Regions from separate parts of the Homo sapiens genome. Here all the other regions are linked to region 3. Evidence: fine-mapped expression QTL. A gene starts in region 3. Each other region holds a variant in brackets. All regions are shown on one strand. Distances are from middle to middle. Region 1 has its middle 21 kb from the start of CFAP97D2. Region 2 holds the start of RASA3 (RAS p21 protein activator 3). Region 3 holds the start of CFAP97D2 (CFAP97 domain containing 2). Region 4 overlaps CDC16 (cell division cycle 16). Region 5 overlaps CDC16 (cell division cycle 16).

Region 1 (4,197 bases), 21 kb before region 3:
GTGGGGAGGGGTGGGGAAGGGTGGGTGCTGGGCGTGGATGGGGTGGGTGCTGGGCGTGGGGTGTGCACCTCCTCTGGGCTCCCCGACCTTCACCCTCGCCCTTCCCAGTCCTGGTGTCAAGGTAACTGGAATGTGTTTCTGTTTCTCTTTCTCCTTTTGATTGTTTTTCTCCCCAGAAGAGGAGAGGAAGTGTCCTTTCGGTCCCCTGTCCTGGGTCTCCTTGCTTGCCCCCACCTCCCCACCAGCCTCTGCCCTGTCCTTCTGCTCCGGAAAGTTTCCTCTGTGGAGGAAGCGTCCTGCCTCCCTTCTCTTCTCTGAAGCCTATTCGCCTGGCATTTCCTCAGCGCATGGTCCAGGACTTTAATCTCTCCTTGAGAATTCTCCATCTGTCTTTTTGAGGCATATTCTGGAAACCTCACTGGACCCTGAAGTCCATCTCTTTCGTGGGATTTTCAGTTCAGAAATCATATTTTAAACATCTTTCCTGCTCTCTGCCTGTTCTTAACTAGTATTCTGTTCTTATGTTACCTATATGCGTATTTTCTTGAATATTCTGAGGACAGTAATTAGATCTTTAACTTCATTTTTTGTTTTCCCACTTAGCTGTTTTCTCTGAGGTCAGCTGTCACCTTTTTTTTTTTTTTTTTGAGACGGAGTTTCACTCTTGTTGCCCAGGCTGGAGTGCCCAGGCTGGAGTGCAATGGTGCGGTCTCAGCTCACCGCAACCTCCGCCTCCCGGGTTCAAGCGATTCTCCTGCCTCAGCCTCCCGAGTAGCTGGGATTACAGGCATGCACCACCATGCCCGGCTAATTTTGTATTTTTAGTAGAGACGGGGTTTCTCCATGTTGGCCAGGCTGGTCGTGAACTCCCGAACTCTCAATCCACCCACCTCGGCCTCCCAAAGTGCTGGGATTACAGGCATGAGCCACCACGCCCAGCCAGCTGTCACCTTTGTGGATCCTCCCCCTCTGTCGCTGGTTTCTATGGAAAGTCTGGAGAAGCCTGCTCACCTGTGTCTAAGAACCAGTGGCTCATTTAGATGGGATACTGTGGGTTTTCCGTGGGGTCCTCCAGGTGGAAAGGTGAGCTAGGGGTGGAAAGGTAGCTGGGGGTGGAAAGGTGAGCTGGGAGGGAATCCACAGACGGGGCGTGGCTGTGCTTTATTTAGGACAGATGGGTGAGGAGCAGGCAGCAGGCTAGCATCTCTCCCTTCCCCCGAAACACTGCAATCCACACTAGAATAAGGCACATATACACCATGGAATACTGTGCAGCCATGAAAAAATGATGAGTGCATGTCCTTTGTAGGGACATGGATGAAGCTGGAAACCATCATTCTCAGCAAACTATCGCAAGGACAAAAAACCAAACACTGCATGTTCTCACTCATAGGTGGGAATTGAACAATGAGAACACATGGACACAGGAAGGGGAACATCACACACGGGGCCTGTTGTGGGGTTGGGGGGAGGGATAGCATTAGGAGATATACCTAATGTAAATGACGAGTTAATGGGTGCAGCACACCAACATGGCACATGTATACATATGTAACAAACCTGCACGTTGTGCACATGTACCCTAAAACTTAAAGTATAATTAAAAAAAAAAAAGATTTTACCCTGGGGCCCTAGACCCAGGCTGCAAGCTGTGGCCACACCCAGGATGCTGACTCCAGGGCCGTGAATAAGAATCTTCTGACGCTGCCTGGGAACCTGCTGGCTTCTTGGCGGGATACAGACGCAGGCACGGGTTGCAGAGGTGACTACTGCCAGGCACTTGTTCACAGGCAACTGGAATTACCAGCCCCCACCCCGTTTTCAGCCCCACATCTATCTCCCTTTGACCTCCCAGCTCAGTGCCACTCTGGGATCCCTCAGCAAGATGACCCTGGCCTCCACCATTGATCTCTGAGCATCTCTGGCTGGGCGCCTTCACCCTGCCCCACCGCCCACACCCTTGCATCCCCTTCCACCTTTGGAAATCATTGGCCATTCTCATCTGCCAGCACCTCTATTCCTGTTCTCTTTGGGGCTACACGTTTCTCCTTGGACTTTGTTTCAATCCAACTGGGCCTGAAGAGGAGGGAGGCCCTGCATTCAGGGTGCCCAGCAGCAACTGCCCTCCACTTAGCGGGAGTTCAGGACAGGACAGAGTGCTTAGACATCTGGGGGCATTCCAGCACTTCCAAAGACCCCGTGCGTGGTGTTCTCAACGTCTGTAAAATGTGGAGGTGAACATTAGACTATTGCTCTCCTAAGAACTTCAGTCACGCTGAGCACAGGGGGTAAATTCATCCCTGGTCGCATTCTTGTGAAAGGCATTATGTAGCAGATCATCTTTTTTTTTCTTTAATTTCATTTTATTTTATTTTAAGTTCTGGGATACATGTGCAGGACGTGCAGCCTTGTTGCATAGGTAAACGTGTGCCATGGTGATTTGCTGCACAGATCAACCCTTCACCTAGATATTAAGTCCAGCATACATTATCTTATTTTTCCTGATGCTCTCCC[G/A]CCCCCCAACCCCACGACAGGCCCCGGTGTGTGTTGTTCCCCTCCCTGTGTCCATGTGTTCTCATTGTTCAGCTCTCACTTATAAGTGAGAACACGCAGTGTTTGGTTTTCTGTTCCTGTGTTAGTTTGCAGAGGATAACGGCTTCCAGCTCCATCCATGTCCCTGCAAAGACATGATCGCATTCCTTTTTATGGCTGCGTAGTATTCCATGGGGTATATGTGCCACGTTTTCTTTGTCCAGTCTATCATTGATGGGCATTTGGGTTGATTCCATGTCTTTGCTATTGTGAATAATGCTACAATGAACATACGCATACGTGTATCTTTATAATAGAATGATTTATAATCCTTTGGGTATACACCCAGTAATGAGATTGCTGAGCCAAATGGTATTTCTGGTTCCAGATCTTTGAGGAATCACCACACTGTCTTCCACAATGGTTGAACTAATTTACACTCCCACCAACAGTGTAAAAGCATTTCTATTTCTCTACAGCCTCACCAGCATCCGTTGTTTCTTGAGTTTTTAATAATCTCCATTCTGGCTGGCGTGAGATGGTTTCTCATTGTGGTTTTGATTTGCATTTCTCTAATGATCAGCGATGTTGAGCTGTTTCTCCTATGCTTGTTGGCCACATGTATGTCTTCTTTTGAGAAGTGTCTGTTCATGTCCTTTGCCAACTTTTTAACAACAAGGTTGTTGGGTTTTTTTCTTATAAATTTGTTTAAGTTCCTTGTAGATTCTGGATATTAGACCTCTGTCAGATGGAGAGTTTGCAAAAATTTTCTCCCATTCTGTAGGTTGCCTGTTCACTCTGATGACAGTTTCTTTTGCTGTGCAGAAGCTCTTTAGTTTAATTAGGTCCCATTTGTCAATTTTTGCTTTTGTTACAATTGCTTTTGGTGATTTCATCATGAAATATTTGCCCGTGACTGTGTCCTGAATGGTATTGCTGAGATTTTCTTCTAGGGTTTTTATAGTTTGGAGTTTTACATTTAAGTCTTTAATCCATCTTGAATTGATTTTAATATAAGGTGTAAGAAAGGGGTCCAGTTTCAATTTTCTGGATGTGGCTAGCCAGTTTTCCTGGCACCATTTATTAGACAGGAAATCCTTTCCCCATTGCATGTTTTAGTCAAGTTTGTCAAAGATCAGATGGCTGAAGATGTGTGGTCTTAGTTCTGAGTTCTTTATTCTGTTCCATTGGTCTATGTGTCTGTTTTTGTGCCAGTGCCATGCTGTTTTGGTTACTGCAGCCTTGTCTGAGGTCAGGTAACTGAAGCATCCAGCTTCGTTCTTTTTCCTTAGGATTGTCTTGGCTATATCGGCTCTTTTTTGGTCCCATATGAATTTTAAAGTAGTTTTTTCTAATTCTGTGAAGAACGTCAATGGTAGTTTAAAGGGAATTGCATTGAATCTATAAATTACTGTAGGCAATATGGCCATTTTCACAACATTGATTCTTCCTGTTCATGACCATGCAGTGTGTTTCCATTTGTTTGTGTCCTCTCTGATTTCCTTGAACAGTGGTTTGTAGTTCTCCTTGAAGAGGTCATTCACTTCCCTTGTTAGCTGTATTCCTAGGTATTTTATTGTCTTCGCAGCAATTGTGAATGGAAATTCATTCATGATTTGGCTCTCTGCTTGTCTATTATTGGTGTATAGGAATGCTTGCAGTTTC
Region 2 (4,197 bases), 46 kb before region 3:
TAACAAAAGAAATCCCTCCTCTCTGGACTACTCAAAGCGGAAGTGCTGCCACATCCTAGCTGCAGCGCTTCTGGGCCAAATATCAAGACAGTGTCTCAGCGATGATCCGCAAACCAAAATAAAGCCGACAGGAAACAGCCCGCTGGTTTAGGGGAGCTGGAATGCCTCCGGCAGCATCAAATGTCATCAACAACTGACACTCAGCCCGTTCCCGGAGGCCTCTTCACACGGGAAGAGGCCGGCTGCGAAGTGCGGCTCAGTGGGGGAGAAGGACCGTGGGGACCGCGACACTGCAGGCCCTGGAAGCCTCTCCAGCCTGAACCGCGCTGTGGTCCAGCACACTCATGGCATGAATATGGAACAGTCACTCCAGGAAACGGTCTTGCTCTGGGGGAGGGGGAGGACTTCCACATCACTCTCCCAAGATAAAACAACCAGGGAAAAGCAGATCCCTCCAGATAAACCAGAAGTCCAGACACAGCCTCCTCTCCGGAAACGCCTCCGGGAGCCCACTTCAGAAGCTGCTGAAGCCCAGAGAAAAACCGCAGCCTCGCAGGCCCTGGTCGCCACCAGCTCGCCCGCCACTTCTCAGTGGAAAGGGACGTGGTGCCGATGGGTCCGGGGTCTCCCCGCCCCGCGGGAGCCCTCAGCCAGAACGCCCCACCAGCACACACGCACACATGCACACACACAAACGCGCGCACACACACGCGCCCACACACAAATACACACGCGCGCACACATGCATCCACACACAAATACGCACCCACACATGCACCCACAAACGCACGCGCACACACACCGCCCACACATGGACACACAAACACAAGCACACACAAACACGCGCGCACGCAGGCACAGACGCGCGCGCACAGCAGCAGCAGCGCGCCGGGGCCTCACGCCCCTGGGGAGAAGCGTGAAGGAGCCTCCACATTCCCCGGAAAGGAAGTTTCTGGGCGCAGCGGAGAAAGGGAGATGCCGAGACCCCGACGTCAGTGGATTTGACACCTGAAGTGCAGGCGCCCAGACAGCCTCAGGCGCGCGCACTCCTGCAAACACGCGGGGCACACGCTCGGGCGCACACGCGGACAGACGTCCCTCGGCGCAGGGACCCCACCTCCTCCGCCGCTACCAGGGACCGGGGCCGCTCCGGGCGCAGAGGAGGCGCAGGGAGCCGCGTTACCCCGGAGCCGACTCGACCCAGCCCGAGGCCCGGGGAGGCGGGGAGGTGGGGAGGGGCCGCGGAGCCGGACCAGCCGTTCTCCGGGGAGCGCGCCGCGCCTGGAGGGCGTCTCCGCCGGGGTCCCCAGCAAGGATCTGCGGAGGGGAGGCGGGCGCGGGAGAGGACAGGGTCGGGCCGGGGGGTCGGACGCGTGGCTGCCGGCGGACACTCACCGATCTTGATCTTCACGCTCTGGAAGACCCGGAGCCCCTCGTCCTCCACCGCCATGCTGCGCGTCCGCGCCCGCCGAGCCTCGCCCCAAGCGCGCGCCGAGCCCGGGCAGCTCAGGCCGAGCAGGAGGAGCGGCGGCGCCGGAGCCCCGAGCGCGGCCGAGGGTCCGCCCGCCTGCAAGACCGCCAGTTGGCCGAGGGCGAGGGCGGGGACCGGGAGGCTCCGCCCGCGGCCCGGCCCCTGCTCCCAACTGGCCCGGGCCCTGCAGGGGCGGGGTTGGCAGGGACGGCGCTGGCGGGTGGCGGAGACCCGGGGGGCGCAGGGATCGGCTTCCCCCGAGGCCTCGGCCCCCGCCCCCGCCCCGCGGATTGGCCGCTGAGCGGAAGGGACCCC[A/C]GCGGGCTGCCTGGCGGAAGAGACGAAGGAAGGTCGCCGGCGCGGCCCGGGCCCGCTGAGCGAGGCTGAGCGATTGACTCGCGGACGAACTTTGCCAAGAGAAGTTCACGTACAACGATCTGGCAGGGGAGGAATCCCGCGCCCAGCCCCAGCTCCTGAGATGCGATCCGAAGGCACCTGCTGCAGACGCACGAGGGGGGCGGGGACACATACACGCACACACAGCCCCCCACCCCAGACCTCCGGCATGGGCAGGTCCCCCCCCCAAGTCCCCCTGCAGACCCCAGCATGGGCAGGTCTCCCCCCCCCCAGTCCCCCTGCAGACCCCGGCATGGGCAGGTCTCCCCCCCCCAGTCCCCCTGCAGACCCCGGCATGGGCAGGTCTCCCCCCCCAGTCCCCCTGCAGACCCCGGCATGGGCAGGTCCCCCCCAGTCCCCCTGCAGACCCCGGCATGGGCAGGTCCCCCCCCAGTCCCCCTGCAGACCCCGGCACGGGCAGGTCCCCCCCCAGTCCCCCTGCAGACCCCGGCACCGGCAGGTCTCCCCCACCCAGTCCCCCTGCAGACCCCAGCATGAGCAGGTCCCCCCCCAGTCCCCCTGCAGACCCCAGCATGAGCAGGTCCCCCCCCCAAGTCCCCCTGCAGACCCCAGCATGGGCAGGTCCCCCCCCAGTCCCCTGCAGACCCCGGCATGGGCAGGTCCCCCCCCAGTCCCCCTGCAGACCCCGGCATGGGCAGGTCCCCCCCCCAAGTCCCCCTGCAGACCCCGGCATGGGCAGGTCCCCCCCCAGTTCCCCTGCAGACCCCGGCATGGGCAGGTCCCCCCCCAGTCCCCCTGCAGACCCCGGCATGAGCAGGTCCCCCCCCAGTCCCCCTGCAGACCCCGGCATGAGCAGGTCCCCCCCCCAAGTCCCCCTGCAGACCCCGGCATGGGCAGGTCCCCCCCCAAGTCCCCTTGCAGACCCCAGCATGGGCAGGTCCCCCCCCAAGTCCCCCTGCAGACCCCGGCATGGGCAGGTCCCCCCCCAGTCCCCCTGCAGACCCCAGCATGGGCAGGTACCACCCTTACCTCCCTTTCTTCTGTCTCGAGGTCTCCTCCTCCCTGACCTCCTCTCTGAGGAGTATGTTTGTGTGTGTGTATGAACTGTAGGTGTGTATATGAACTGAGACTACACTCCCTCCTCTATGTTGCAAAACTTCATTGCACCCAGTGCCACACACACACCCTACACATATATACACACATACATATACCACACATACACTACATATACATATACATACACATAGACACCACACACAGACACCACACACATACTACACACGTGTACACACATACATATACACACATATACACACACCCTACATACACACACCACATATACACATGAACACATATGTTCATATACACACAACACAGACAGCACACACATATACTACCCATACACATGCACAGACATACACACTAAACATACATACACACACCTACGTGAACATACACAAACACACACACACTGCATGGAGAGGAACAGGAGCTTCATGAAGATAGAGGCCTATTTTTTTCCACTGCTTACCTTCACTTCCTAAAAAGCAGTTCCATGCGTTGAAAGAATGAATGGCCTTTCTTCCCCTGACTGCTGGGAGCCTGCAGCCACAGGGGCCTCTCTCATCCTCAGCCCTTGCAAGCCTGGTGCTCACTGGGGCAGAACAGGAGGTTAAGGCGGCACCCCTGGTTCCAACCCAGAGCCTCTGCGTCTAGCGCTGGCCCTGGGTGGCGTCTGCAGTGGGTGCTGTGGACGCCATCCACACCCCTGCTTTACGACGGAGACTATGCTTCCGTTTGGAGCCACTGGAAGCAAGCCGGCTCCTGTGTTTCTCCGAGGACCAGTGGAGTCCTCTGTGGCAGCCCAGCCACAAAGCTGCTTCTCTGCCATCCCTCCACCCTCACAGGCCTGCTGATAAACTCAACGCGGATCTCGCTTTGGTGTTTGTTTCCAGGCGACAGCTGGGGTCAGGAGTGAATCTCCAGACTGCAGCAGTGGCAGCCAGGACGGGAGCCCCTTGGAAGGAAATGCACTGGCAGCGGCAGGATCTCGGGTGCTGGAGAGTTCGGGAAAGTCACAGATACATGGACTATGGAATCAGGTGGCTCGTGTTGAGGGCAAGATAATGAAAAGATCACCACCTGAAACAAAAGGGTGGCACGCTAACGGGCCTCCTCAGTGCCACATAAGACACTCATCTCCTGTGACCAGAGGAAAACCAAAACACTGGATCAGGGCCAGGACTTAACCGTGTAGAAGGCAGAGCTCCAGAGAAGGCCAGGTGCTTGGCCTCAGAAGGTGTTGTTCCAGGTTCGGGTGCTCGGCCTCGGAAGGTGCTGTTCCAAGCTCTGGACCCTGACTGGGAAGA
Region 3 (4,159 bases):
GTGACAGCTGTGGGTGGACAGCTGTGGGTGACAGCCGTGGGTGGACAGCATGGGTGACAGCTGTGGGTGGACAGCTGTGGGTGACAGCCGTGGGTGGACATCATGGGTGGCAGCTGTGAGTGGACAGCTAGGACTCCTTCCCTGAGGGTGGCAGCTGTGAGTGACAGCCGTGGGTGGCAGCTGGGACTCCTTCCCTGTGGGTGACAGCTGTGGGTGACAGCCGTGGGTGGACAGCATGGGTGGCAGCCGTGGGTGGCAGCTAGGACTCCTTCCCTGTGGGTGACAGCTGTGGGTGGACAGCATGGGTGGCAGCCGTGGGTGGACAGCTGGGACTCCTTCCATGTGGATGACAGCTGTGGGTGACAGCCATGGGTGGACAGCATGGGTGACAGCTGTGGGTGGACAGCTAGGACTCCTTCCCTGAGGGTGGCAGCTGTGAGTGACAGCCTTGGGTGGCAGCTGGGACTCCTTCCCTGAGGGTGGCAGCTGTGGGTGGACAGCTGTGGGTGACAGCCGTGGGTGGACAGTGTGGGTGGCAGCCGTGGGTGGCAGCTGGGACTCCTTCCCTGTGGGAGGCAGCTGTGAGTGACAGCCGTGGGTGGACAGCCGTGGGTGGCAGCCGTGGGTGGCAGCCGTGGGTGGCAGCTGGGACTCCTTCCCTGACCTGAGCTCACTTCATTTGACCAGGAGCATCAAAAACAGTGTGTGCATCCAAACCACTGTGAATCCCCACACTGTAAAAACAAAAACTTCAAACGTCACATATTTTGTCCACTTTGCCCTCAATGCACGCTTTATCCATGTGAGTGTGAGCAGACATAGAGCACAGCCCTCACTCCTCCATCCACCAACCGATGGCAGCAGCAAGCACAGTCAGGCTTCTCAGCACACAGGATGAAGGAACAAGGGAAGACAGCCCCACGGTCTGACTCCGAGTCCCAGCTGAGGAACCAGCCAATAGCATGGACAGCACTACTTCCCATCAGCATGACTGTCAGGTATTTGTCGAGCACCTACTGAATATTAGGTATTTGTTGAGCACCTACTGAATATTAGGCTTTTTCTAGTCATTTTTGACCAATGACAATATCAGAGTAAAGGAAATTGATTATTCTAATAGAATTCCTCTGAATGTAACATTTAGATTGTATAGGCTAAGAAATCATAACTAAGCCTCATGTCTTAAAGTGCTGGTTGTATTTCTAGGTAGGAATTCTTACATCTAAATTCTACAGTATATGCAAGTTATCTAAAAATTAATACTTGTGAACAATTATGTATTAAAATAAATTTTTCTTTTCAAAAACCCAGGCAACTTTAAAATTTTCATTAAATCAACAATTTTAACAGCCTATAAAGGCTTCTGCCAAATGTTGAAGATCATCAGAGCTAGCTGAGTACAGAGCACCTCAGCCACCTCAAGAGTGGCAGGGGAGGAAATAAAGTCATATTTTGGCTTCACTCACATCTTATTACTTCCAGATCTGATTCTTTCTTTCAGACTGGCAGCCACTACATCCTGCTAATATTCAGAGCAAATTTCTCATGAAATGCCCTGTATCTGCTCCTCACATATGCAAAGCTGAACAATGAGTTCCCATCCATGGATTCTGCACTGGAGTCTCATGTGATGAGAGCTGTAGTGTAATGAAGACCACAGCTCTGACATGAAAATGATGATGCTATTTTCTCATTAACCAAATCCTCTGATGTGTCGTCGCCAACATTGCGCACGTGGCTTCAACGAAGATGAAACGACCGACAGCTGTCCTAGCGCCATGTTCACTCCATTCGTCTCAGGAAAAACCCATCCCAACCTGATTAGAGCAATGGAGAGAGGGTGGCTTAAAACAGCTAAGCCTTTGCATAACTCGTCTTCAAGTCAATCAGAAAAATTAGGGAGGATCTGCTGCCTAACCTTCAAACAAATATTTTGGAATTGTCTGAATTATATAAATTATTCAAGATAGAAGAGAAAGGAGATAAGGAAAGCAGAAAGAAAGGTACTAATTAAGAAAGGAAAGAACTGGAGAGCGGGAGAGGTTGGGAGGAAGGGCAGAAGAAAGAGGTAGGGGAGAGGAAGACAGCAAGGAGCAAAGGAAGGGTGGGCAGGAGGAAGGTTAGTTGGAGAATTTCTCGGATCTTATGTGTGATTATCTCCTTCCTCTGTAGCTGAGGAGTGGCATCAAAATGGCAACACTAAACTATCCAAGATCTCCTGAAAAAAAAAAACACCCCAGTGGAGAAGAAGATCCCACTCTTCACCATTATTCTTCGCGTGTTGTTTGAGAATCCCAGACTGTCTTCTGGCTCCCGTTCTTCCCCCTCCTTGGACGCCATGACAACTGTCACATGACCCTGCAAACACAGCGTCTCCAGGTCTGCACCAGGCCCCAGCTGCTCCTCTGTCTGGAATGAGCAAGACGATTTTGTTGCTGAGATGCACGGAGCCCCCCGGCTGACCTTTCCCTGTGCCAGTGAGTACCTGTGGCATGCAAGGGAGAAAGCCTATCAGGACCACAGGAGAAAGGTAGGAAAGTCCCCAATCCAGCCCTGACAGCTCAGCGGGCGGGCACCAAGCAGCGCCCACGAAATGCCTCTGCTTTCCCTGGAGTCCTGGAGGTGATTTTCTTTTTGGAGACAGCATGGTTGAAATGACATTTCCTAACAAGATTCATCATCTATGTTGCCATACAATAAAAATCTCATTAAATAGTTGACGGCTTTCTTTCTTTCTTTTTTTTTTTTGAGATGACAGCTTTCATGTGCCATGTTTTAGGGCCATCCTATTTCTAATCACAGCATATATTTAAGAAGTACTTAATTTTTCCTAAGTGACTTGAAAGCATCTTAAGACAAAAACACCAGAAGCATCCTTTTCTTTTTCTTTCTTTTTGTTTTTTGTTTTTGTTTTTGTTTTTGTTTGTTTTTGAGAGGGATGTTGCCATAGGGGTGTTGCCATGTTGGTCAGGCTAGTCTTGAACTCCTGATTTCAGGTGATCCACCTGCCTCAGCCTCCCAAAGTGCTGGGATTACAGGCATGAGCCACCGTGCCCGGCCCGGCATCCTTTTCTCTATCAAAACAGTGGACTCCAAGGGGGACTAAAAGCCAACCCTTGTCCCCATTAGAAGATATGTTATTATTTCCATTTATTGGATGCAAATGTGGACAATTGTTTGAGGGCATCGCCATGCAGATCTGAGGTGGCCTCCCACAGTCTTCTGCCCACACCTCAGTGGAGGCGTCAGAGAACGATGTTCCATGTATCATGTCTCCACATGTGTGTTGATCAGGCTGGAAATACTCTTAAGAAGGAGAAGTTTGGGTTTCTGTTTCTGGGAATGGAGACACTGCCCTGTAATGATCTTAAGTGACTACCCCAAGGAGTGAACTGCAGGTCAAGCATTTCTCTTCCTCCTAGGGTTGCAAGTGACATTGTGTGGCCTGGGCTGCAGGTCACACTCATTGCAAGGCGCCATAGCACCCAGCCCCCACCCCACGTCAGGCCTCTGCACCTGCTGTCTCCTTTGAGGTCCCCACTGGGAACTCTTCCCGGCTCCTTCCCCAGCTCAACCTCACTTCCTGGCACTCCGGTTCCAATATCATCTCCCTGGAGTCTTCTCTCTCCCCTCTGCCGCTCTCTGGTTCCTGGGCCTGCTACCTCCTGTTGCCACGTGATTGATGGGCATGTTCATTACTTGTGTTGTTTTCCCCACTCAGTGCTGACCACGTCCTGCCCACCACGATGTTCTCTGCACGTAGAGTGTGGAGTGAGCACTTGGTCAACCGTTGTCAGTAGGGAAAGATGGAAAGCAGTGGGTAAGGCAATAGCACATATGAATCAGTTAGCATTACAGTAATACTACAGGATAGAAACCCCATGGGTGTTTTCTTGTTTGCTTTTGTATCCCGGGGACTAGAATACCTCCTGCATGAGGTAGCTGGTCAGTAATCCTGCAGCCTAAGTGAGTAACCAGGCTCTGTACCTGAGAAACTGTAAGGTAAAGAAGGTTGAAATTGTCGTCATGGGAGGTGCAGAGATGATTGAATAGTGAACTTTGGTAGGTTGACTGGAGCCATGAGGCCCCAGGGGGCATAAGCTAGTTTAGCAGCTCTGTGACGTCGGAAACCTACAGGTACTGGGTCCAAGGATGGAGT
Region 4 (4,000 bases), 60 kb after region 3:
TAATCTTAAAATTCGTTTTCTATTTCACCTTGTACCTCTGACCACTTATGTGAATTTTTCCCTCCAGAAGAACCCCAGGACATCTATTGGTTGGCTCAGTGTCTTTACCTGACAGCACAATATCACAGAGCCGCCCATGCACTTCGGTCACGAAAACTGGACAAAGTAAGTGATGGTATGAACTTTAAAGCTCTTCAGAGCTTTAAAAAAAATGTCATTAGTGGCCGGGCGCGGTGGCTTACACCTGTAATCCCAGCGCTTTGGAAAGCCAAGGCAGGTGGATCATGAGGTCAGGAGCTCAAGACCAAGATGGTGAAACCCCATCTCCGCTAAAAATACAAAAATTAGCCGGACGTGGTGGCAGGCGCCTGTAATCCCAGCTACTCGGGAGGCTGAGGCAGAGAATTACTTGAACCTGGGAGGTGGAGGTTGCAGTGAGCTGAGTTCGTGCATTGCACTCCAGCCTGGACAACAGAGCAAGACTCTGTCTCAAAAAAAAAAAAAGTCATTAGGGTTTTAGGTGTATATTCCATTTCTGTTGAAATTATTTAACTTGATGCAATTTTTCTTTGTTTTTGTTTTTTTGAGGTCTCTCTGTGTCACCCAGGAGTGCAGTGGGATGATCGTGGCTCACTATAACCTCAGACTCCTGAGTTCAAGTGATCCTTCTGCCTCAGCCTCCCTAATAGCTGGGACTACAGGTGCATGCCACCACACCCAGCTAATTTTTAAATTTTTTTGGTAGAGACAGAGCCTCACTATGTTGCCCAGGCTAGTCTTGAACTCCTGGTCTCAAGCAGTCCTCCCGCCTTGGTCTCCCAAAGTGCTGGGATTATAGATGTGAGTCATCACAGTAGGCCCAGTTTTTTTTTAGTGAAAGTGAAGGGAAAATGTCTTATACCTAATCTGTCACCTTCTTTTTCCCCCATCTCCCATCTAGTCTCTAAATTCTGAAGACTGTTTTCTAAACAGCTCTGGAATCATGGATATTCCTCTTCCTCCCCACTCGTACGTGTCAGGCCTTTGATTTTTTTGTCTGTTCTGTTACAGCCTCTCTTCTTGTCTCTTTTCCCCAGTAACAGTTTCTCTCTTCTTATCTTCCCTGTCACAAGTTCATCTTGTGAACTATTACAGGAGTGAGTAGTCTTTAAAACACGGATGTGGTTATATTCCCACAAAGTCATTCAGTGACTTCCCATTAGCTGCAGGATAAAGTCAGATGCATCAGTAGGTCTGTGAGGCCCTCCTTGTTTTCTCTCCACTCTGCGTCTAATCCACCACCATCAATACCTGGAGCACGTGCTCCAGTCACGTGGTGCTGCTGTGAGCTCCTTGGACACCCAGCAGTTATTCACACTCAGGGCCTGAAGTGGAGCTGCTGCGATCTCCTTGGACGCCCAGCAGTTATTCACACTCAGTGCCTGAAGTGGAGCTGCTGTGAGCTCCTCGGACGCCCAGCAGTTATTCACACTGAGGGCCTGAAGTGGAGCTGCTGCGATCTCCTCGGACGCCCAGCAGTTATTCACACTCAGTGCCTGAAGTGGAGCTGCTGTGAGCTCCTCGGA[C/T]GCCCAGCAGTTATTCACACTCAGGGCCTGAAGTGGAGCTGCTGCGATCTCCTCGGATGCCCAGCAGTTATTCACACTCAGTGCCTGAAGTGGAGCTGCTGCGAGCTCCTCGGACGCCCAGCAGTTATTCACACTCAGGGCCTGAAGTGGAGCTGCTGCGAGCTCCTCGGACGCCCAGCAGTTATTCACACTCAGGGCCTGAAGTGGAGCTGCTGCGATCTCCTCGGACGCCCAGCAGTTATTCACACTCAGTGCCTGAAGTGGAGCTGCTGCGATCTCCTTGGACCCCCAGCAGTTATTCACACTCAGTGCTTGAAGAGCTACCCAGTGCTCCACTCCTCTGCCTGACCACTTACTCGCTGCCTCACTTACTCGCTCTCCTGCAGATGTTTACTTCTCCACCTGGTTGATGCTTTCTGTTGCCCCGTTTCGTCATGCTTACCTGTTGTGCTTAGTTCACATCTCCCCTACTGTAACCTCCTGGGGCAGGGCCTTACTGCTTTTGAATCCTTGGTGCCTAGTAAACAGTAGGTTCATAATAAATATGGTTTAACAGGACTGGATTTTTTTTTTAACTGCAAGAGTAAAAGGAGAAATTATGAAATTAGTTCTATTTTATGCTTATGGCTTTCTTTGAAAGTGAAGATACATATTATTTTGACCACTACTTAAACAAATTAATTTCTTTCCTAGTTGTATGAAGCATGTCGTTACCTTGCAGCTAGGTGCCATGTAAGTATGCTCATAATTTCATTTTTATTTGGTTGAATAAAATGAGTGTTATGCATCTCTTAAATATGTGTGAGAATTTTAGTGATGGAGCTTAGCAGGTTAGTAAAGTATTTCATGAGGAAGTGTTCCTTTCCTTAGTCATGTTTGCTATAAAATACTGATTCTTCGTTTACCACATGCTGACATGCATGAAGAAAATTCTACTTTAGACATTTCACATTTAAATAATGGGCATAGTATATGTTATCCTTTAAAAATTCGGATCATGTGTTTCGTGTTAGAAGTCGTGAGTGATGAGCGGCACTTCTGTTTTCCACGTAGTATGCTGCAAAAGAGCACCAGCAGGCCCTTGATGTTCTTGACATGGAAGAGCCCATCAATAAAAGATTATTTGAAAAATACTTGAAGGACGAAAGTGGCTTCAAAGATCCTTCCAGCGACTGGGAAATGTCACAGTCTTCAGTAAGTAGTACTGTGAGCACAGCTCAGTAACGGCGGCGAGAATTGCCCTCATTACGTGGCAGAAACACATTATCTTCTTTTACTTATTACTATATTAAAACAATTGTGGTTGCCAATTTATTTAATTTGCCCACCAAAACCAAAAAAGATTCTGAGACATTTCTGAGCCCTTAGTTGCAAGCTGTAATTGTATCCGCAGATGCCTGCATCCAAAATAGGCTGGCTTGAAACTTCCTTCTCATATTTGATGCCTTAAGCTACTCCCTAAAAGTGGAATAATTTTTCTTCTCCTTTCTGTGTTTCAGCAGTGTTTTGGACCTACACCAAGAAACTTTGATTAGCGTACATTGTTTCTTTCCAGGAAATGGTTTTGTGTTCTGTTTGCTTCAAAGTACATTGCTATGTAATTGTGTATATTTCAGTTTGTATACTTCATATCTCCATGAAATTGCACATTCCTTGCTGGCAGACATCATATAGTAACTTATTAAGTGACATTTACAGATCACTAATCTGGATTTAAAAAAAAAAATAAAAACTTATTGAGGTATAATTTATATGCCATGCAGTTCCCCCATTTAAACTGTATGGTTTGATTCCTTTTAGTGTATTCACAGAGCTTTGCAAACCTCACCATGGTCAATTTTAGAATATTTTTATTATTCAGAAAGAATCCCTGTAAGCCTTACCTGACCTACCAATTTCTCTTTCTTCCCACATCTTTTTTTTTTAAATTAAGACAGGGTCTTTGCTTTGTTGTCCAGGCTGGAGTGCAGTGGCACAATCACAGCTCACTGCAGCCTCAACCTCCCAAGCTCAAGTGATTCTCCCACCTCAGCCTCCCGAGTAGCTGGGACTACAGGCGCCCGCCACCATGCCCGGCTAATTTTTTGCTATTTTAGTAGAGACGGGGTTTCACCATGTTAGCCAGGATGGTCTCGATCTCCTGACCTCGTGGTTTGCCCACCTCGGCCTCCCAAAGTGCTGGGATTACAGGTGTGAGCCACTGTGCCCGGCACAGTTGGCTAAATTTTTTAAAAAATGTTTTGTAGAGACAGGGTCTCACTGTGTTGCCCAGGATGGTCTCAAACTCCTGGGCTCAAGTGATCCTCCTGCCTTAGTTTCCCAAAGTGTTGGGATTACAGTCATGAGCCACTGCACCTGGCCCATTTATTTATATTTTTGGTAGAAGTTTATTACTTGACTTTTCACCTTAGATAGTTATTTTTAAGCATAAAAGA
Region 5 (4,000 bases), 70 kb after region 3:
TGGTAAATTTTGAACTTTTTAGGTGTCTTGGTTTGCAGTGGGATGTTACTATCTCATGGTCGGTCATAAAAATGAACATGCCAGAAGATATCTCAGGTATGAATTTATTTTTTTCCTCTCTAGTTAACCTGTAGAATTGATGTCTTGCTCATAAGCTTTCAAGTAGTAATTAGTGAGTACTTTAAAAGCAATGTGAAAGAATAAATGTTTTTTTTTTTCTTCCTTTCTTTTCTTTCTCTCTTTCTTTCTTGCCTTTTCTTTTCCTTCTCACCTCCCCTCCCCTCTCTCTCGAGGGTTCTCACTCTGTTGCCCAGACTAGAGTGCAGTGGTGCAATAATAGCTCACCTCAAACTCAAATGATCCTCTTGCTCAGCCTCCCGAGTAGCTGGGACTACAGGCACCACCATGCCTAGCTGATTTAAACATTTTTTTTTTTTTTTAGTAGAGACGAATCTCACTGTGTTGCCTAGGCTGGTCTTGAACTCCTGGCCTCAAGCAGTCCTCTTGCTTCGGCCTCCGAAAGTGTTGAGATGACAGGCATGAGCCACCATGCCTGGCTGAATAAATGTTTTCTTCAAGTGGTTTGTTCTTTATAAGATGCCATGGGGAGAGAGAGAAAAAAAAAATCAGTGATGTAGACCCTATTCTCAGGGAACCTACATATTTTATTTATTAATGAGAATAAATGGCCAGGCATGGTGGCTCACACCTGTTATGCCAGCACTTTGGGAGGTCAATGCAGGTGGATCACCTGAGGTCAGGAGTTCAAGACCAGCCTGACTAACATGGTGAAACTCTGTCTACTAAAAATACAAAAAATTAGCCAGATATAGTAGTGGGCATCTGCATCCCAGCTACTCGGGAGGCTGAGACAGGAGAATCGCTTGAACCTGGAAAGTGGAGGTTGCAGTGAGCTGATATCGCACCATTGCACTCCAGTCTGGGTGACAAGAGCAAAACTCTGTCTCAAAAAAATAATAATAATAATTAATAAATGAGAATAAATATGAAACAATAGAGAATAATGTAGTTTGAAAGTTTCTCTCTTTCGCTTACAGAGATCCTGTTAACCTTTTACTTTTAGGATTTCTTTTATTAATAGTTGTGAAATTACACAAAACTTTATGTAAAATTGGGGTCACTAAATGTGACTATAAAACAGAATTCTTAGCAGGGTGAACTGATTCATGTAATGATTTGCTGTGGTTTTAACTTAAGGAAAGCCATGCAGCCTAGTGAAGCTATTTAACCAGTATTATTCAAGTTTAGAAAAATGTCAAGTATGTGAAGAATTAATTACTTAAACTCTGTAAATGTTCTAATTTCTGTGGTTTCTTCCGTGCAAATAAAACAGAATTGGTCTCTAACGGAAACAGCATAAACTTTGGAGTCAAATTTGAATTCTAATCCAAGTTCTGTGACTTACCAACTGAAATTCCTTGGGAAAGTTAATTTCTCCTGCTCTCTCTTTCTTTAAAAATGGGGATGTCAGCCAGGCGTGGTGGCTCACGCCTGTAATCCCAACACTTTGGGAGGCCGAGACAGGCAGATTACCTTAGGTCAGGAGTTCGAGACCAGCCTGGCCAACATGGTGAAAGTCTGTCTCTACTAAAAATAAAAAAATCAGCTGGACATGGTGGCATGCACCTGTAATCCCCGCTACTTGGGAGGCTGAGGGAGGAGAATTGTTTGAGTCCAGGAGGTGGAGGTTGTAGTGAGCTGAGATTGCACTACTGC[A/G]CTCCAGCCTCGCCGACAGAGTGAGACTCTGTCTCAAAAAAAATAAAAGGGAGTGGGGGTGGGGGAGATGTCATACTCATATAGCAGGATTGTTAGGAAGACTGATGCCACGAAAGTACCCTGTACTAGGAAGAAACTAGAATGTTCCCTGGTTGGTTGTATGTTCAGCATTTTAGAAGAACTTCTACATAGAAAGATGATTAGTATTGTAAAAGTTATTTTGAGCTATGCTGCTTTGATCTAGCGTGCAATTCAGTGATGGACTCTTATCAGTGGTCCCCAACATTTTTGGCACCAGGGACCATTTTGTAGAAGCCCCCCCTCCCAGGGTGGGGGGACTGGTTTCTTGATGATTCAAGCGCATTACATTTATCGTGTGCTTTTTTCTATTATTATTACATTGTAGCATATAATGAAATAATTATACAACTCACTATAATGAAGAATCAGTGGGAGCCCTGAGCTTGTTTTCCTGCAACTAGATGGTCCCATCTGGGAGAGATGGGAGACAGCGACAGGTCATCAGGCATTAGATTCTCGTAAGGAGTGCGCCACCTAGATCCCTCACATGTGCAGTTAACAATAGGGTTTGCGCACTTACGAGAACCTAATGCCTCTGATCTGACAGGAGGCAGAGCTCAGGCGGAAATGCAAGTGAAGGGGAGTGGCTGTAAATACAGATTAAGCTTTTTTTTTTTTCAAATGGCAAGTTCTTTCTTGACATATGAAGCTTTACTCACCTGCCTGCCACTCACCTCCTGCTGTGCCGCCTGGTTCCTAATAGGCCAGGGACTGATACCAGTCTGTGGCCCAGGGGTTGGGACCCCTGCTCTACATGAAACAGGTAACATTTGGATAAAAGAAAACTTAAAATACAAGGAAGTAGGGTATCACCCCCTATGTCTTCCACGTTTTGTGATATGTTCTCTTTATTCCTTGTGGGTTAATTATACAGTGTTCACTGTATACAATTATTCACTGATATATATGAGTCCAGTCCCTGTAACCAGGGTATATCTGTTGACCATCATCTATAGGATATCGCCTAATCCCTCAAGCCTTGGTATACCTGTCTTTAAAATATAAATGAATTTATCTTGCAAGTTATTAGGATGAGAGGATGTATCTACTAGGTTACAAAATGGAGCTCCTGGATTAAGTAATATCTGTAAGTTCTATTTAGAATGCTAATGGGTTTTGCTACAGTGCATAAAAAGCTGTGGATCTCCTCAAATTTCTTAAAATTTTGCTATACTATTAAACAGTTTTAGTTCAAATGAATCAACACAAATGTTACATTAGTGTTTAATGTGGTGACAGCTTGTTTACTAAATGGATGTTAATGTTTTTGAGGCCATCTCCTTATATAAAATTAACAATTCAAGAATAAATACTAGCTGGGCACAGTGGCTCGTGCCTGTAATCTCAGTGACTCAAGAGCCTGAGGCAGAAGGATTACTTGAGCCCAGGATTTTGAGGCTGCAGTGAGCTATGATCATACCACTGCATTCCAGCCTCCAGCGACAGAGCAAAACTCTGTCTCTAAAAATAAAAAATAATAAATAGGCTGGGCGCAGTGGCTCACGCCTGTAATCCCAGCACTTTGGGAGGCCAAGGTGGGTGGAGCACCTGAGGTCAGGAGTTCAAGACCAGCCTGACCGACATGGTGAAACCCCATCTCTACTGTGAATACAAAATTAGCCGGGCATGGTGGCGGGTGCCTGTAATCCCAGCTACTCGGGAGGTTGAGGTAGGAGAATTGCTTGGTATCTGGAGGCGGAGGCTGCAGAGAGCCGAGATCGCACCACTGCACTCCAGCCTGAGCGACAAAGTGAGACTTTGTCTCAAAAAAAAAAAAAAAAGAATAAATACTATATGACTTAAATTAACTCTTTTGTTTTAGCAAAGCCACAACACTTGAGAAAACCTATGGACCTGCATGGATAGCCTATGGACATTCATTTGCGGTGGAGAGTGAGCACGACCAAGCGATGGCTGCTTACTTCACAGCAGCACAGCTGATGAAAGGGTACGGCAGAGCAAACTCATCAAACTCCATGAAGGGATGTTTTTCCTAATAGAAATGAAATTTCTATTACTATTACTGCTATTTGGTTGCTAAACTAAACACAAACATTTTACTTGCCTTTTAATCTAGTTGCTTGTGATTGTAAAATAACTATGAAAGTGGAGGGGAGAGAAGCTGGTGTATGCATTTGCCTAGCAGTTGATTCCAACCAGTGCAAGAAGCAACCAGGAAATT

The links.
Region 1: its variant is fine-mapped to the expression of CFAP97D2 in whole blood (TOPMed, PIP above 0.99). The same link has a PIP of 0.9 or more in blood mononuclear cells.
Region 2: its variant is fine-mapped to the expression of CFAP97D2 in whole blood (TOPMed, PIP 0.97).
Region 4: its variant is fine-mapped to the expression of CFAP97D2 in whole blood (INTERVAL, PIP above 0.99).
Region 5: its variant is fine-mapped to the expression of CFAP97D2 in whole blood (TOPMed, PIP 0.98).

What each region holds. Positions count from the first base shown.
Region 1 is chr13:114,156,371-114,160,567 of GRCh38, forward strand. No RefSeq gene overlaps it. Among named protein-coding and RNA genes, the nearest start is that of CFAP97D2, 21 kb to the right of the region's middle. The variant G/A (reference allele first, on the strand shown) is at 2,515.
Region 2 is chr13:114,131,040-114,135,236 of GRCh38, forward strand. RASA3 (RAS p21 protein activator 3) reads right to left here and starts at 1,584. Exons shown (of 24, transcript NM_007368.4): 1 at 1,396-1,584. The coding sequence starts at 1,450. RefSeq lists enhancers at 10-509, 680-1,307, 3,596-3,775, 3,605-4,105 and silencers at 1,100-1,759, 1,790-1,889. The variant A/C (reference allele first, on the strand shown) is at 1,787.
Region 3 is chr13:114,176,891-114,181,049 of GRCh38, forward strand. It overlaps CFAP97D2 (CFAP97 domain containing 2), which reads left to right and starts at 2,367. Exons shown (of 4, transcript NM_001395229.1): 1 at 2,367-2,530. The coding sequence starts at 2,441.
Region 4 is chr13:114,236,732-114,240,731 of GRCh38, forward strand. CDC16 (cell division cycle 16) reads left to right here. Exons shown (of 18, transcript NM_001078645.3): 3 at 68-165; 4 at 2,259-2,297; 5 at 2,619-2,759. Among named protein-coding and RNA genes, the nearest start is that of CDC16, 3.8 kb to the left of the region's middle. The variant C/T (reference allele first, on the strand shown) is at 1,566.
Region 5 is chr13:114,246,909-114,250,908 of GRCh38, forward strand. It overlaps CDC16 (cell division cycle 16), which reads left to right. Exons shown (of 18, transcript NM_001078645.3): 11 at 23-96; 12 at 3,641-3,766. It overlaps LOC105370384 (a long non-coding RNA gene), which reads right to left. Exons shown (of 4, transcript XR_007063887.1): 4 at 3,708-3,811. Among named protein-coding and RNA genes, the nearest start is that of MIR548AR, 4.4 kb to the left of the region's middle. The variant A/G (reference allele first, on the strand shown) is at 1,738.